2 linked regions of the Homo sapiens genome follow. The protein of the gene in region 1 interacts with the protein of each later gene in a biochemical or structural test. Each region holds a gene or a part of one and is shown on either strand. Other genes may lie near its edges.

The links. The genes of interacting proteins can lie anywhere in the genome.
Region 2: the proteins of ROBO3 (region 1) and NELL2 form a complex in vitro, tested with the Homo sapiens proteins (one study listed by IntAct).

Annotation. Positions count from the first base shown.
Region 1 is NC_000011.10:124,860,680-124,868,432, reverse strand, and holds the start of ROBO3 (roundabout homolog 3 isoform a precursor), read right to left. Parts: upstream 3,002-7,753; 5' UTR 2,856-3,001; coding exon 2,696-2,855; intron 1-2,695. UniProt on the Homo sapiens protein: Receptor involved in axon guidance during development. Acts as a multifunctional regulator of pathfinding that simultaneously mediates NELL2 repulsion, inhibits SLIT repulsion, and facilitates Netrin-1/NTN1 attraction.
Region 2 is NC_000012.12:44,866,289-44,873,316, forward strand, and holds part of NELL2 (protein kinase C-binding protein NELL2 isoform b precursor), read right to left. Parts: intron 1-7,028. UniProt on the Homo sapiens protein: Plays multiple roles in neural tissues, regulates neuronal proliferation, survival, differentiation, polarization, as well as axon guidance and synaptic functions.

The sequences.
Region 1 (7,753 bases):
CATCTCCACCTGCACTGGTTCACGGATCGTCCTTGCTCAGTGAAAGACCATAAACCGTGCACTGGAGCCAACAGTTTGTTCTTGACTTCTGCAAGGTCCTGGCTCAGTGAAATTGGGAATGTGGACTGGCTTGGGATCCCTTATGAAAGGCAAGACGGGAGTGACAGGGCCGGGCCTAGAAGGGCTTGTCAACCTGGATTCTATGAATCGGCACAGGGCCCTTCTTACTGACACCCCGGATAATCACGCTTCATTTCAAGGGTCCTGTGAAGTCACAGGAATTGAACGCAAATAGCAGTAGAAATGTTAGTAAGGCTCCTTTTCCTGACAGGTGCATAGTTTCCAATAGATTATTCTACTGATTGATGTTCCTCTACTTCCCCTGTTCACTCCGATCAGTTCATCCACATATTCTGTCCTACCTGTCACTTGGCCTGCAGACTTTGGCCTGTTTCACCTTCTGCAGCACGGTTAGGATCCCGGAGCCTGTTATACTCCGGCACTCTCAGCCCCTAGTCCAGCCAACAAAAGTGGATTTGTAACCCGTGGCGGCCAGTAGGTGCCACTGCAGCCTTTAATAACCTGCTGTAAAATAACCAGGGACCACTTCAAGCATCTGTTCTGCCCCCTGCCCCCTCCCCCTGTTCCCCCCTTCCTACCCTGTTCCAAAATCTGCAGGAACCTCCCGCTTCCAGCCCGCCTGTGAGATTGGGTTTCATTTCCTGCCCCCCCTCTTAGAAGTTCTGTTGTAGACAAAGCTGGACAGGCTGACCCGTGCTGGCGCTGTTCTGAGTTTATTTTAATTGCCTGGAGTCAAGAAGATCGATTTCTGTCCCACTTGGGAGAGTAATTTTCTCCATCTCCTCCCTTCCAAATGGAAATCTCTGCTTTTCACCCTTCTCTTCTCCTCCATCTCCTCCCATTCCCAATTTTGGAACACCCCGTGGTGAGCAACACTGGAGTGATTGAGAGCAAGTGTTGCTGTTGAACCAACCAGGGCTGGAATCTCAGACTTTGACGCTTCCTAGCTGTAAGAACTTGGGCAAATTATTTAACTTCTCTCAGTCTCAGTTTCTTTCTTTGTGATGTGAGAGCAGTGATAGGGTTGCTCTAAGACCATAATGTATGTAAAGCCCTTGGGGGATAAACGTCACTACTCTGCCATTATTTAAGGGCTTGTGTTCCCAGCATATGCACCTTATCTTGGCTCCTACAGTCTCTACCTGAATCAAATTCTACCAGGCCCCAATATTCTTTTTTCCCCTTGGTATAGCCCTCAGGTGTAATGGAAATGGACTGATCTGTTATCGCTAGGTTTTGCTTCATGCTGCTTTTGTGACGATTAGGGCACCATTCACTCTATAAAGCGTTTTCTCGGCGGCAAAATGTGTCTGTCAACACCTTCCTTGCATACCTCACTAAGTTTCGAGCTTAGATGAGACAAAGTATGGTGAAAACACTCTGTAAACGCGCTAGGTGAGCAGAAGCGGGACTCTGCGGGGTGCCAGCGAGAAGGGATCTGTGCTTAACCTCCTGGAAATCTAGGAGGGTCAAGAGGTTGGAGAATCGGGCTCCTCCCCCATCGTCTTTCTCCCCAATCCTTCTATACGGACCACACCCTTCTGGTCGGCCTTTTCCCCCTAATTCCTGTAGACACAGCTGCAGGCGCCCTTTCCCTGGAATTTCCCCCTCTACCCTTCCCGGTCTCAGGAGATGCTTCGACTGCAGCCTAATGAATAGCTAATGGCCATGCTAATGAGGCTCTGGGGCTCCTCCCTCAGCACCTGATGTGCCCCACACATGAACACACACATATTGCCAGGGTCTCCTTTCTCTCCACCTTCGAGTCCCCAGCACAGTGCTCGTCACTAGACTCGAGTGGGTCGAGGCAGAGGGATGGGGACCGCGTGCACCTGGAGGGAACCACACGCGAAAGCGCCCGGTAAAGCGGGGGTTCCCGATGCGGCAGGCAGGGGGCGCGCTCCGGCCTCTCCGCAGGCTGGCGGCGGCCGGCTCCCGCAGCTTCCCCGCGGCGCTAGGGGAGAGCGCGCTGTCCCAGTCATTTATTAATCACCGTAATTAGCGGTAACGACCTCGCCGCCAGCTCCGCCCGCCCGCCACAGCTCTGCCGGGGTGGGCCGGCTGAGAGTCCCGCCGCTGAAAGACAAACTTCTAAGTTTCCTTAAAATGATCGCCGCCCCTATCCCCTCCGTAGCAAACACATCCAGCATTTTGGCTTCCTCTGGTCCTAAGTGAGTTCTTGGGAAACTTCGGGGTTCCGAAGACCAGCTGCCTGGGTGGGTCACCGAGTGACCTGGCTTGGCCGAGGCCGGCGGGAGACTGTGCCCCCTCCTCTGCCCTCCCTGCGCTGGGCCCGGGCCTTTCTTAGCTCGGACTTCCCTGCCCGTTACCAGCAACGGTTCTTCTCACCTGGGGTGGGCGTTGTAGGGGAAGGGAAGGAGGTGTAAAAAGACTCAGTAGCCATCTTCTCCCAAGCCCTCGACCTCCCGCGGGTACCCCCACTCATGTGCTCGAAGCTCCAAATTATCCCTTAGACCCCACGACCCAGGGAGGCGCTGGGAGGCGCCACTCAATCCCGGACCTCGGGACAGGAGCGCTTCTCCTTCCCTTCCACGCCGCCCTCTCACCTCATCCCCATCCCAGGATCCCATATCCCCAAGAGGCAGGGTCTCACCGTTGAGAGAGGGATCGCCGGGAGGCAGCAGGGTGTGGTTGAGCGCCGCCAGCGAGGAGTTGAAGCCCAAGAGCAGCTCGCTGGAGTTGGAGATGTCCCCGGCCAGAGAGTCCGCGAACAAGTTCATCTGCAGCAGCGTTTTCAGCAGGTAGCGCAGCATGGCTCGACCCAGCTGGGATCGGGACTGGGGGCTGGGGGCCCAGCCCCTGGGTCTGAGACCCGTGGGCTGGGAGCCGTAAGCCCCTCCACAGCCTCTGCGCGCTGCGGCAGCCACGGTGCCGCTCTCCTGCCGGTGCGCCTGGGTACGGTCGGTGCCTCTTCGTGCCCTCCTCCTTCCCTCGTCCTTCTCTCCACCCCCTAGTGCCGGAGTCCCCTGGGAGCTGGGCAGGCGGAAAGCAGGTGCCACGCCGATCACGGCGTAATTAAGGGATTAATCCGCCTCCCTCCACCCTCCCACCCTTACCTCTACAGTCACTATCCGAGCAGGAGACACGAGTAGCGTAGCGCGCGAGTTGGAGTCCCCGCCCCGCACCCCAAGCCCAGCGTTCCGTTCTGGACGCGGCGAGAGATTTTCCCTGTCTCAAAGCACCCAAGATGAGGGACGAGGCTCTGTCGGACTCTGCCCTTCTGCCCAACTTTAGAACAGGAATCTGTCCTCTCTTTTCCCGAACCTTTTGGAAACTGAGGCAAAGCGCAAGCAATGCTCCTTGCTGCCAAAGTTCTGGTTTCCATTCCCTCCCAAGTCTAGGGGTTTGGCGACGGAAGGGCAGGAGACTGGGGTGGTTTGCAGCAAGAGTTGGGAGTAGGCAGAGAATTCCAAGACAGGTCCACCTCTCTGCCCTCTGGTCCTTTGGTCTGCAGCCAGGAGGCCAGAGGATGGAGCGGCGCGCCCTGACCCGGGAGTCCTGCTCCAAACGCCCTAATCTAGGAGTTCCTGTAGGAGACTGAAAGCCAGGGAAACCCAGGCAACTGTCATTTATTTGAATCCTTTTACATTACCCTGCTTTGACATTTTTTATTAAATTGTTTTACGTTTTTGAGGAGACTGAAATGGAACCAAGGATTCTAGGACAAAAACAAAGATAATATTATTTTTGTAAAGGCATGTGGGATTGCTGCAAAATTAGTGCAAATCTGTTCAAATCGGATAGCAGTCGTCCTTCCTGGGGGGGGCGAAAAGAAAACCATGGGCCCCTACTCCCACCTCCCACTTCCAGTCGCGGTCTGCTTCTGACTTTTCTGGAGTTCTTTCTACCTGAAGACCCACCTCGACAAACTCACTTTCCTAGACAGGAGATGGCTTTGGGGTATCAGGGAAAGAGAGAGGCCGGGGCATTCCTAACCTGAGGTAAGGCCCTGCTGATTGAAGAGTCAGTGCCAGAGTTCTGGCTCAGCCGTCAGGTTCTGGGATGAGACAACTTTCATGGGGCGACTGCTTCTGACCCCAAAGGGGTCGAGATCAGAGGGGTGGGTGCTATACAGTCGCAGACTCTGGAGTAAGCAGAATCAAGAATTGAAATATTTCAGGCAGAGCTTGTTCAAGGGAACCCGAGACATTGTCAAGGGGTGGGGGGCTTGTTCCAAGCCTCCTTCCTCAGTCCAGGCGCCTGGCTGTGAGCCTCCAACTATGGGTGTTTAGGTGCCTTCCAACCCTAGCAGTTCTGGGCGGGACGTAGAAAGGCTGGAAGCACTAGGTGTGGGGGAGGGGGTAGGTGGGAGTGGGGGTGGGGCCGGATGGACCCCCCACCCCACCGCCACGCAGCGCCCTGGGAGCTGTCCTTTTCAGCACCTCATCTGCAGGTGCCTGACTAGGGCCCTGGAGCCCCCAGGGAAGACATAAATCCGAGCAGACCCTGAGGCTGAGGACTGGGGTAGGTGGGAGACGGGCTAGAGACACATCCTTTCAAAAGCAAGAAGATAATAAGAGATTTGACGCCCCTCCCTTCCTCGCTCCAGGGTGGTATTCAGATAAGAGAGAAAGTAAGGGATGTATTTCCCACCCGAAATCTATCCTTCAGGAATGACCAACACAGAAGTGGGTTCTAATTCTACGTTTGCCAAGTACAAGACGTCACCGCTTTGGATCTCAGTTTTCCCATCTGTTAAGGAGGAATTGGAGTGCTTGATCTACTCTGACCTGTGAGATTCGAGGCTCCGGGGCCCTTTGCTCCGCCCCCTGCTGACCGCGGTCACCTGGGTTCCATCACAGCAGAGGCTGAATCGGGATAGAAACCCCACGTCCTGGTACCAGGCCCTACTCTGGGGCGGAGGGGGCCAGAAACCCTCCCACCATGCGGCTCCTGCCCGGTCCTAATGCCCTGATTTGCTCCCGGCTGGCCTCTCCGCAAACACAGGGCCTGCCAGCGTCTAGGGGCTTGTCACCCTGTTAGCGGATTTGTTCCCGGAGACGGCGCAGTTAATTGGCCCTTTATGTGGGGATCAGGGCGTATTTGCTCAGGGTTCCCTGAGCGGAGGCGCGGCTCAACCCGTGAGCAAGGCTGCTTCACAGTCCCTGTCACGTGGGTTTGGAGGCTGGACAAATAGCCGGGCCACTCTACTTTCCAGGAATCTGCTGTCTCTCCTACACTTCACCTCGTCTGGGCTCTCTCTAATTTTCACTCTCCACTTTTTCTTGTTTCTCTCTGCTCTTTCCTTCTTTGTACTTCTCTTTATCTTGATGATACTCTCCTTTTAAACCAAACTCAGATCTAAGCCAAGAGGGCTGAGTTCTCCCAACTGGGGATATCAGAGAATAAATACCTCCCAACCATAACCTAAGTTCCCTCCCTTTTCCTTCCCATTCTCTAGTGTCCTTACGGCCCTGGGCTAGGCAGAGTGGAGCAGAGAGTGGGCAGAGAAGGCCCAGCAGAAGTCACACCTCCCAGCTCTTCTGCAGCCCTCTCCCCACCTTCTCTTCTTTACTGAGGGTCAGACAGGCAGCCTAGAAACTGGCCCTGCCCCTGTCCACATCCAGCTTCTCTCCTGGCTACCCCCATAGGCAGTTCTGAAAGGGGTTTGCCTCCTACTAGTCTCCTCACTGCCTGCTCTGCTCTCTGAAAATTACCAAGACAACTCTTTGTCCTTTTTCTGGAGTGGGTATGCAACTCTTTGCAACTATGTCCATTTCCTAATTTGTCAACTGTAAGTGCCTGTACAGCACCTAAAACACTGAGTAGATGCCCTGCAATTGGAGGAGCCTCAGCCGGGGTGCATTCATTCTGTTGACTTATAAATTTCCACCTTGGGCTGGAGAAAGAGTCAGAGTTGGGTTTAGAGACCCTCTCTTCTACCACCTCAGGAAACTACTTCTTTCCCAGAGTTTTACCAACAATATGTACAGTCCAGACTTTAGAAAGGGTAAGAAAAAGAAACAGAGGTTTTGAAGGAGATTTGGCAGAAAGAAGAGAGAGTAGCAGGAAGCAGGGAGGTTGGGGCGAGTTGAATTTGTAGAGTTAGGAGCTAAGTTTGTTCTGATAAGGTTACAGCATCTGATGGGAAGAAGTGTGTGTGTGTGTGTGTGTTTGCGTGTGTGTGCATGTGTGGGTTCACAGGTAGAGCCCTAGAAAAGAGCCCTGGGCCAGGAGTTGATGAGGTAATATAGAAGAGGAATATTTCTTTCCTATGGTGGTATTTTGGGTGGGTGGATTTGCAGAGGAACATGGGAAATGGGAAGGGCAAGTGATTATGAGTAAGGCAGGAACCCTACACAAGAGTGGTGTTTTGGGAATCATGAGCCTCTAAAGGAACTCTCCATCCCACCCCCCACTGGTGTGTGAGTGTGTGTGTGTGTGTTCACGTGCTAGGGGAGAGAACAGCTACCCCAGGCTAACTTTCTTGGCCTAGTGCCAGCATATCGGCCAGAGAATGTGGCTGGGAATTTTCAGTGGCCAAGCTGGGGCCATATGGGGAGGCTTCTTGGTGGTCTAAAGCCTGCATGCCGGCTGGTAGTGGATGAAGCTGCTGGCATGTAATTGCCCAGGAGTGCAGTCTGAAGACAACCCCCCATTACTACCACTGCCTCCCCCCAATGTACACACACACTGTCCGGTCCATTTGCATCCCCCCAGAGCCTGTAGCCTGCCATCACTCTCTGCCTGGACCCCTTCCCAGGACATTAATACATATTGAGTGTGAGATTGTGTGTGTGTGTGTGTGTGTGTGTGTGTGTGTGTGTTTGCTGGGAGGGGGACAAAGAAATAACATCTGCCCCTTACCCCCACTAGGGTATGCCTGTGAATGGCCCAGCAGGGCTGCTGGCTTCAGAGTGATGATGCCAGGGGGCAGCGACCCAGCCAGCAGGGGCCAGAGAACCAAACAGGAGGGGGAATCAGAGAGCAAAGAGCAGGCACCCAGCTGGAAAGCAGACAGCAGGAGCCTGCCCCCGGCAGGAGCCAGAGTGTGTTGGCTCAACCCCTATAGCTGCTGAGATAATAAGCCAAGGCCCCCTGCATGAAAGTCCCCCTTTCCCCACAGGGTTCCAGTGGAGGAGACTGTGGGGAGACACTTTGCAACACACTCTACCAAGACTGGAAATCTGGAGACAACTGGGCAGAAATGTTCACATCCCAATACAGATAAAACAAAGTCCAGGGAGAAAAAGAGCTTTCTTGGTTCTTTTTATAAAACTAGATACAGAGCAAGCTTCCATAAATATACACTTGGTGACTATACCTGATTAAATAGTTAGTCCTCACAACTACCCCTGCAGAGCCCACTAGCCTTCTCTCTCTCTCCTTTTGCATTACAGCTGCTGTAAGAAAGTACCAAAAACTAGGTGGCCTAAAACAACAGAAATGTATCCTCTCACAGGTTAGAAGCCTGAAATCAAGGTGTCAGCTGGGCCATGCTCTCCCTGAAGGCTCCAGGGAGGGATCTGTTCTTGCCTCCTCCAGCATCTGCTGATTACCAGCAGTGCTTGGCCTTCCTGGTCTTGAGGATTCATCACTCCATCTCTGCCTCTGTCTTCTTATGGCCTTCCCTGGGTGTGTGTCTCGGTGTCTCTTACCTCTTCTTATAAGGCCACCAGTCATTGGATTAGAGTCCAATTTAATCCAGCAT
Region 2 (7,028 bases), on another chromosome or scaffold:
AATCAGTAACAGGAGAATTCCACAAAATTTGCAAATACATAAAAATTAACATGCTCATGAACAACTAATTGGTCAAAAAAGAAATTAAAAGGGAAATTAGAAGGAAAGGGGAAATTAGGGAAATTAGAAGACATCTTGAAACACATGAGAATGGACACAACATACCAAAACATAAAGGATGCAGCAAAAGCAGTTTTCAGAGGTAAGTTTATAGCAACAAATGCCTACATTTAAAAAGAAGAAAATCTCAAACAAATAACCTAAAGTTACAAATAAATGAACTACAAAAAGAAAAACAAAATAAGACCAAAGTAAGACCAAAGGAATGAAATAATAAAGATCAGAGCAGAAATAAATGAGAGAGACTAAAATTAATAGAAAAAATAAATGAAACAGAGAGTTGTTTTCTAATGAAGATAAACAAAATTGACATGCCTTTAGCTAAGAAATTTAAGAAAAAAGAGAGAAGACTCAAATAAATAAAATCAGAAATGAAAGAAGAGACATTATTACTGATACCACAGAAATACAAAACATCATGAGACTACTATAAACAATTATATGCCAACAAATTAGATAAACTTAGAAGTTTAAGTGTATATGTCTAGGAATGTATTCATTCCTAGACACATACAACTTACCAAGACAAAATCATGAAAAAATGAAAAATCTGAACAGACAAATAACTTGTAAGCAAATTGAATCAATAATAAAAAGTCCTTCATCAAAGAAAAGTCCAAGGCCTGATGGCTTCACTGCTAAACTCTATTTAAATAACCAATACCAATCCTTCTCAAACTCTTCCAAAAAAATGAAGAAGAGGGAATAAATTCCAAATTTATCTTATAAGGCCAGCATTACTATGACACCAAAGCCAAATAAGGATACTACAAGAAAATTACAGGCCAATATTGCTGACGAACAGAGATGAAATAATCCTCAACGAAATACTAGCAAACCAAACTCAACAGCACATTAAAAGTATCATTCACCATGATCAAGTAGGATTTATCCCAAGGAGGCAAGAATGGCTCAACATACACAAATCTATAAATGTGATACATCAAATTAACAGAATAAAGGACAAAATCCACATGATCATTTCAACATATGCAGGAAAACATTTGACAAAATTCAACATCATTTCATGATAAAAACTCTCAATAAATGTATAGAAGAAATGTATCTCAACACAATAAAGTTCAGATATAACAAATCTACAGCTAACATTATACTCAACAGTAAAAAGTTGAAAGTTTTTCCTCTAAAATAAGGAAAAAGACAAGGATGCCCAATCTTGCCACTTCTATTCAACATAGTACTGTAAGTCCTAGACTTGCAATTAGGCAAGAGAAAGAAATAAAAGGCATCAAAATTGGGAAGGAAGAGGTTAACTTATCCCTGCTTGCATTTGACATCATCTTATATCTAGAAAATCCTGAAGATGCCACCAAAAAATTGTCAGAACTAATAAATGATTTCAGTAGAGTTTCAGGATATCAAATCAATATACAAACAAAAAGTAGTGTCTCTATGTTAACAATAAACTGGTGAGGTGCAGTGGCTCACACCTGTAATCCCAGCACTTTGTGAGCCCGAGGCGGTCCAATCACTTGAGGTGAGGAGTTCAAGACTGGCCTGGCCAACATGGTGAAACCCTGTCTCTACTAAAAATACAAAAATTAGCCGGGTGTAGTGACGGGTGCCTGTAATCTCAGCTACTTGGGAGGCTGATGCAGGAGAATAATTTGAACCTAGGAGGCAGAGGTTGCAGTGAGCCTAGATCTCACCACTGCTCTCCAGCCTAGGTGAAACAGTGAGGCTCCATCTCAAAAAAAAAAAAAAAAAAAAAAAATGAACTACCTGAAAAAGAAATCATGAAAACAATCTCATTTACAATGGCTATGAAAAAGATAAAATACTTACATATAAATTTAATCAAGAAGGTGAAAGAGCTGTATACTGAAACTATAAAACACTGATGAAAGAAATGAAGAAGACACAAATAAATGAAAAGATATGCTTTGGTCATGGATTCAAAGAATTAATATTGTTAAAATTTCCACACTATCCAAAATGATCTACAGATTTACTGCGACCCTTATTAAAATTCCAATGACATTTTTCTGTATTCATTCATCCATTGGTGACCATTAATTAGGTTGATCTCACATCTTGACAATTATGAATAATGCTGCAAAGAACATACGAATGCAAATGAACACATAAAGAAAATGTGGTATATGTACACAATGGAATACTATTCCACCTCAAAGAAGAAAATCCTGTTATTTGAGACAACGTGGATCAACCTGGAAGACATTATGTAAAGTGAAATAAGCCCTTCACAGAAAGACAAATACCACATGATCTCACTTATATGTGGGACCTTAAAAAGTTGAACTTATAGGAGCAGAAAGTAGAATGCTGGTTACTAGGGCCTGGGGATGGGGGATAGTTGTTGGGGAGATGTTGGTCAAAGGACCAAAATTCAATTAGATGGCACAATATGTTCAAGAGATCTATGGTACAACATAATGACTATAGTAATAATACATTGTACTCTTCAAAATTTCAAATAGATTTTAAGTGTTCTCACCAAAAAAAATTATAAGTACATGAGGTAATGAATATGTTAATTAGCTCAATTTAGCCATTCCACAATGTATATTTCAAAATATTGTGTTGTACACAATAAATGTATACAATTTTGTCAATTTAAAAATAATTAAATTTTAAGTAACAAAACATAAAACAAAAACAAAAGTCTCAAATCTCATCATCCAAATCATCTAAAACAGGTATGAGAAAGGCGCTGCATATAATCCATTCTGAGGCACACCTTGAAACATAGTATCTGCTCTCAAAAACACAATGGTAAGGCAGATAAAGATGATAGTTCTAAATATTCTCATTCAAAAAGGGAGAAAATGGAAGAAAGAAAAAAAAACAATTGCCATATCCAAGCAACTTTAAAATCCAGCCAGGCAAACACCACTTGGTTTCAAGGTCTAGAAATAAGCTTCTGTAATTATTGGTTCCACCCTCTGGAGTCAGCTCCATGCTCTGGGCTCTGAGTTCTGCCCTTTGAATTAACCTTCTTTTTTCATGAAAGGTAGCTTCATAGAAAGATGTTGACAGCCAAGTCAGCCTGTTTTTTGCTTGTAGAATTTTGGGGATCCAACACCTTCTTTCATTTTATTCTCTCACTGATTCTTTCAGGCCACACCAGCAGCAATTTTACTGCCATAATATTCTTAAGAACCTTGTAGATCTCCCATGTATGTCATGGGGATTCACTCCATTAAACAAAAAAGGCTCCTCCATAGATATTTCTTGGATAATTCCATCTCTATTTGTGACCTCTGCTGAAATGGTTGAGGGGATCTATGAGTCATATGTTCTTCAAAGAGCCCTCAATGTAACTGAATACTCTGACCTTTTGATATTTCTGAGGCACTAGCAAAATATTTTCTAGTCACATCCTTGGCTTTCTTTTCAGACTAGGTATTCCTAACAGTGAATATCCTATTTTAACATGTTTTGGAATCTGAATAGGTTGATAATTTCTCAAATATCAAGTTATGAATATGTTTTGCTCAACAATTATTCCCTAAATCTCTCTCTCTCCTCTCACGTTACTACAAACAGCAAGAAAAAGCCAGAGTGCACCTTCAACACTTTTGTTGCTTACAAATCACCTTAGCTAAAATCTAAGTTCATTGTTTACAAGTTTTGCTTTCCACATAACCACAGGGTACAATTCAGCTAAGTTTTCTGCCACTGTGTAAGAAGGGTCCCCTTTCCTTCAGTTTATAATAAAAATTCTTTATATCCATCTGAGCCCTCAATGGCAGTTCCTTCAATGTCTATACCTAACCAATGCTCGCTTATGATAATTTAGGAATATTCAGAGGTGATTTAGATTTTCTCTCTACCATGCTCTTCACTTTCTTCTAAGTCCTCAATAATAGAGTCACCAATAACCATATTTCTACTGAAAGTCTATTTAAGGCAATCTAGGCTTTTTCTATCATGCTCCTAAAAATTCATCCAGCATCTGCCCATTGCCCAGTTCCAAAGCCACTTCCATATTTTTTAGGTATTTCTTACACCAGCACCACACTTCCATGCAGGAAAATTTGTATTCGTTTCCTATTGCTGCTCAAACAAATCACCACAAACTTAGTGACTTAAATCAACACAAATCTATTATCTCACAGTTCTGGAGATCAGAAGTCCAAAATGAGTCTCATTGGTCTAAAATCAAGGTATCAGTAGCACTACATTCCTTCTGGAGGCTGTAAGAGAAAACTCATTTTCTTGCCTTTTTCAGCATCTAAAAACTGCCTGCAGTCCTTGGCTTGTGGCCCACTATCACCTTTAAAGCCACCAGTGGCCAGACTAGTTTTTCTCATATCACATCACTCTACACTGACTATTCTGCTTCCTTCTCCCCATTTCAAAAGATTCTTCTGATTACACAGGGCTCACCCAGATAACCTATGATAGCCTCCTAATCTTAAAGTCAGCTGATGAGCAAACTTAACTTCCCCTTGCTGTATAACGTAACCTATTGTTTGGTTCCAAGAATTAAGACATGAACATCTATGCAGGACCATTATTCTGCCCACCATAATATATATTTCCATAATGATAAATTTTCAATTCTGCTCTATTAGTATAGCCTACCATGTAACCTGGTTCCTGCTTTCCTCATATACTTTATTTCATATCACATGCCCTATGTTTCTACTTCTCTAGACTTCCTCCACGTTCTCAAATGCACATTCATCCCATGCTCAGAACCTTGCTCACACACTAGTCCCTTTGCCTATCCCCATAGCTTCTCTTCTTTGGACTACTCTTACATATCCTTCAACTATCAGCTTAAATGACTATTCTTCAAAGATGGTTTCCCTGAGCCTGAGACTCCCCTAACTAAAATATAGATTCCCATTATATCTTCAGTTTTTCTTCATATAATTTATCTTAATGGTGATTAGGTCTGTAACTATGTAATTGTTCAACGGCTATTTTTAAGACACTATGAAATCAAAGTTAAGTTCTAACGTCTTCATTTGTTATGTGCCTAACACCTAGCAGTATGCTAGTTTCCCAAAAATAACTTATTTGAAAGAATGAAAGTAACTCGCTTAATTGTCATAACAATGATCATTTTATAATTGAGGGTACTGGAGCTTAGAGAAATTAAGTAACTTCACCACAGTAAAACAACTAATGAAATTCCACCTCAGTCTATCTTGTTTCTAAGTGCATCTCTTAAACACTGTGTTATTCCACACTATTTGGGCACCAACAGCCATCACTTCAAAGTCCACAGATGCTCACCAACCATCATACTGAAGACAAATTAGTGCCACCTCGATTTCCTCAATGCAGTTACCTTTGCCTACTAAAGTCCATGGTCTATTACCAAATGCCTATTTCACTCTGCGTAACACTGGCATAAGAGGAGACGTACGACCTTTTTTTCCCTTTAAAACCTTAAAGTTTTTTACAAATAACTACTAAGCTTATTTTCAACTTAACAACTTGTAAAAAAAACATGCTTTGATTTTATCCACTTCTCTTCTATGGATTAATGAGATTATAAAATCTGTTAACACTTCAGAAGAAATTGTATTAAACCAACAGAGGAAATTATCTACTTTGGGAACCTGGCCAGATTAATTGTTAAAATCAAAGATCTAAAAATCATGCTAACATTGCTAGAAAGTCCTAGAATGGTGCTTCTGTATACTCTCATTCCTGATCCCTCATGTACAGAGAGGAAAAAAACATTATTATGATCATTATCTTGGGGAATACTTCCTAGATTTTAGAAAGTAGAACCCTTTATAACCTTTCATAGGTCTTTTTATTGTCTACATTCACTCCTCTAATTTTTAAAAGCATAATAAGTGTATTTTTGTGGCTGCAAGTCAGATTATAGCTAGAAATGACTAGAAAATTGCCTGGATTCCTTTTTTGAAAATTATGGTAATTGGCAAAGATCAAAAGCCATATTTATTAAGGTGTAATCTAATTTAGCATCTTATTACTTGAATTTCCAAAACAACTATAAATCAAATTTCAACAACAACAAAACCATTTTAGTGATACTATAGTTGCTATTATTATTTTTAAAACATATGACTTTAAAATATATTTCCATTTGTTTTTATTAGGTATAGATAATAATAAATTTACGAGTTTCAAAAGGTATTGAATTGCATGCATCTCAAAATCCACTAAGGAGAAAAACTGGCACAAGGAAAAGCAATATTAAATGAGCAAAAATCACTGGGAAAGTATATGTTGAGATTTCTTTATTTTAAAGCTAAAAGACAGAAGAAGATGGTTACATTACTGCAGGAAAAATTTGATGGTCCAAAAATCTCTTCCATCTATTTAGAACATATCTGATAGCACAAAGAAACTTATATGATAGGTTCATATGAAACCTGAGAGCATCTCACGGATTTTGTAATTTGTTACTATTCCTGCTATGACTATGTATAGTGTATATGTATATACCGTACAAAATATCTGCAGCACCCTCAACTCACTGTAAATAGAATCTATAAAATCTTCAGTCTGTATATTTTTTTCTCTCTAAAGCCAAAGGAAATCTCAATGAAGCAGCAAGACTCGGAACTGACTTCTTAACAAGTTTCCAAATGCTATTAGCAAAGACCTTGCCAAGGTAATGCGAAATTCCATGCATGGCCAAAGGGCCACCTTTTGTCAATTTCATAATCCGAATCTTAGAATAAAAGAAATCACAAGAGCATAATCAATACATCAGTAATATATGCCTACTGAGAACATGGCATGCAGGAAATACTTGCTGATTGATTGGTTATATTAAATAAAGTCCATAATTTGGCAGAAAATGAAATTTTACACCTTCAAATCTCATAAACCATATTTGTTAGGCATTTACTCTGTCTAAATATTGAGCTCGGCATCAACAAGGAAGGAAAAACAACCAATTCATCAATGTACATGGATATCTAGTTACT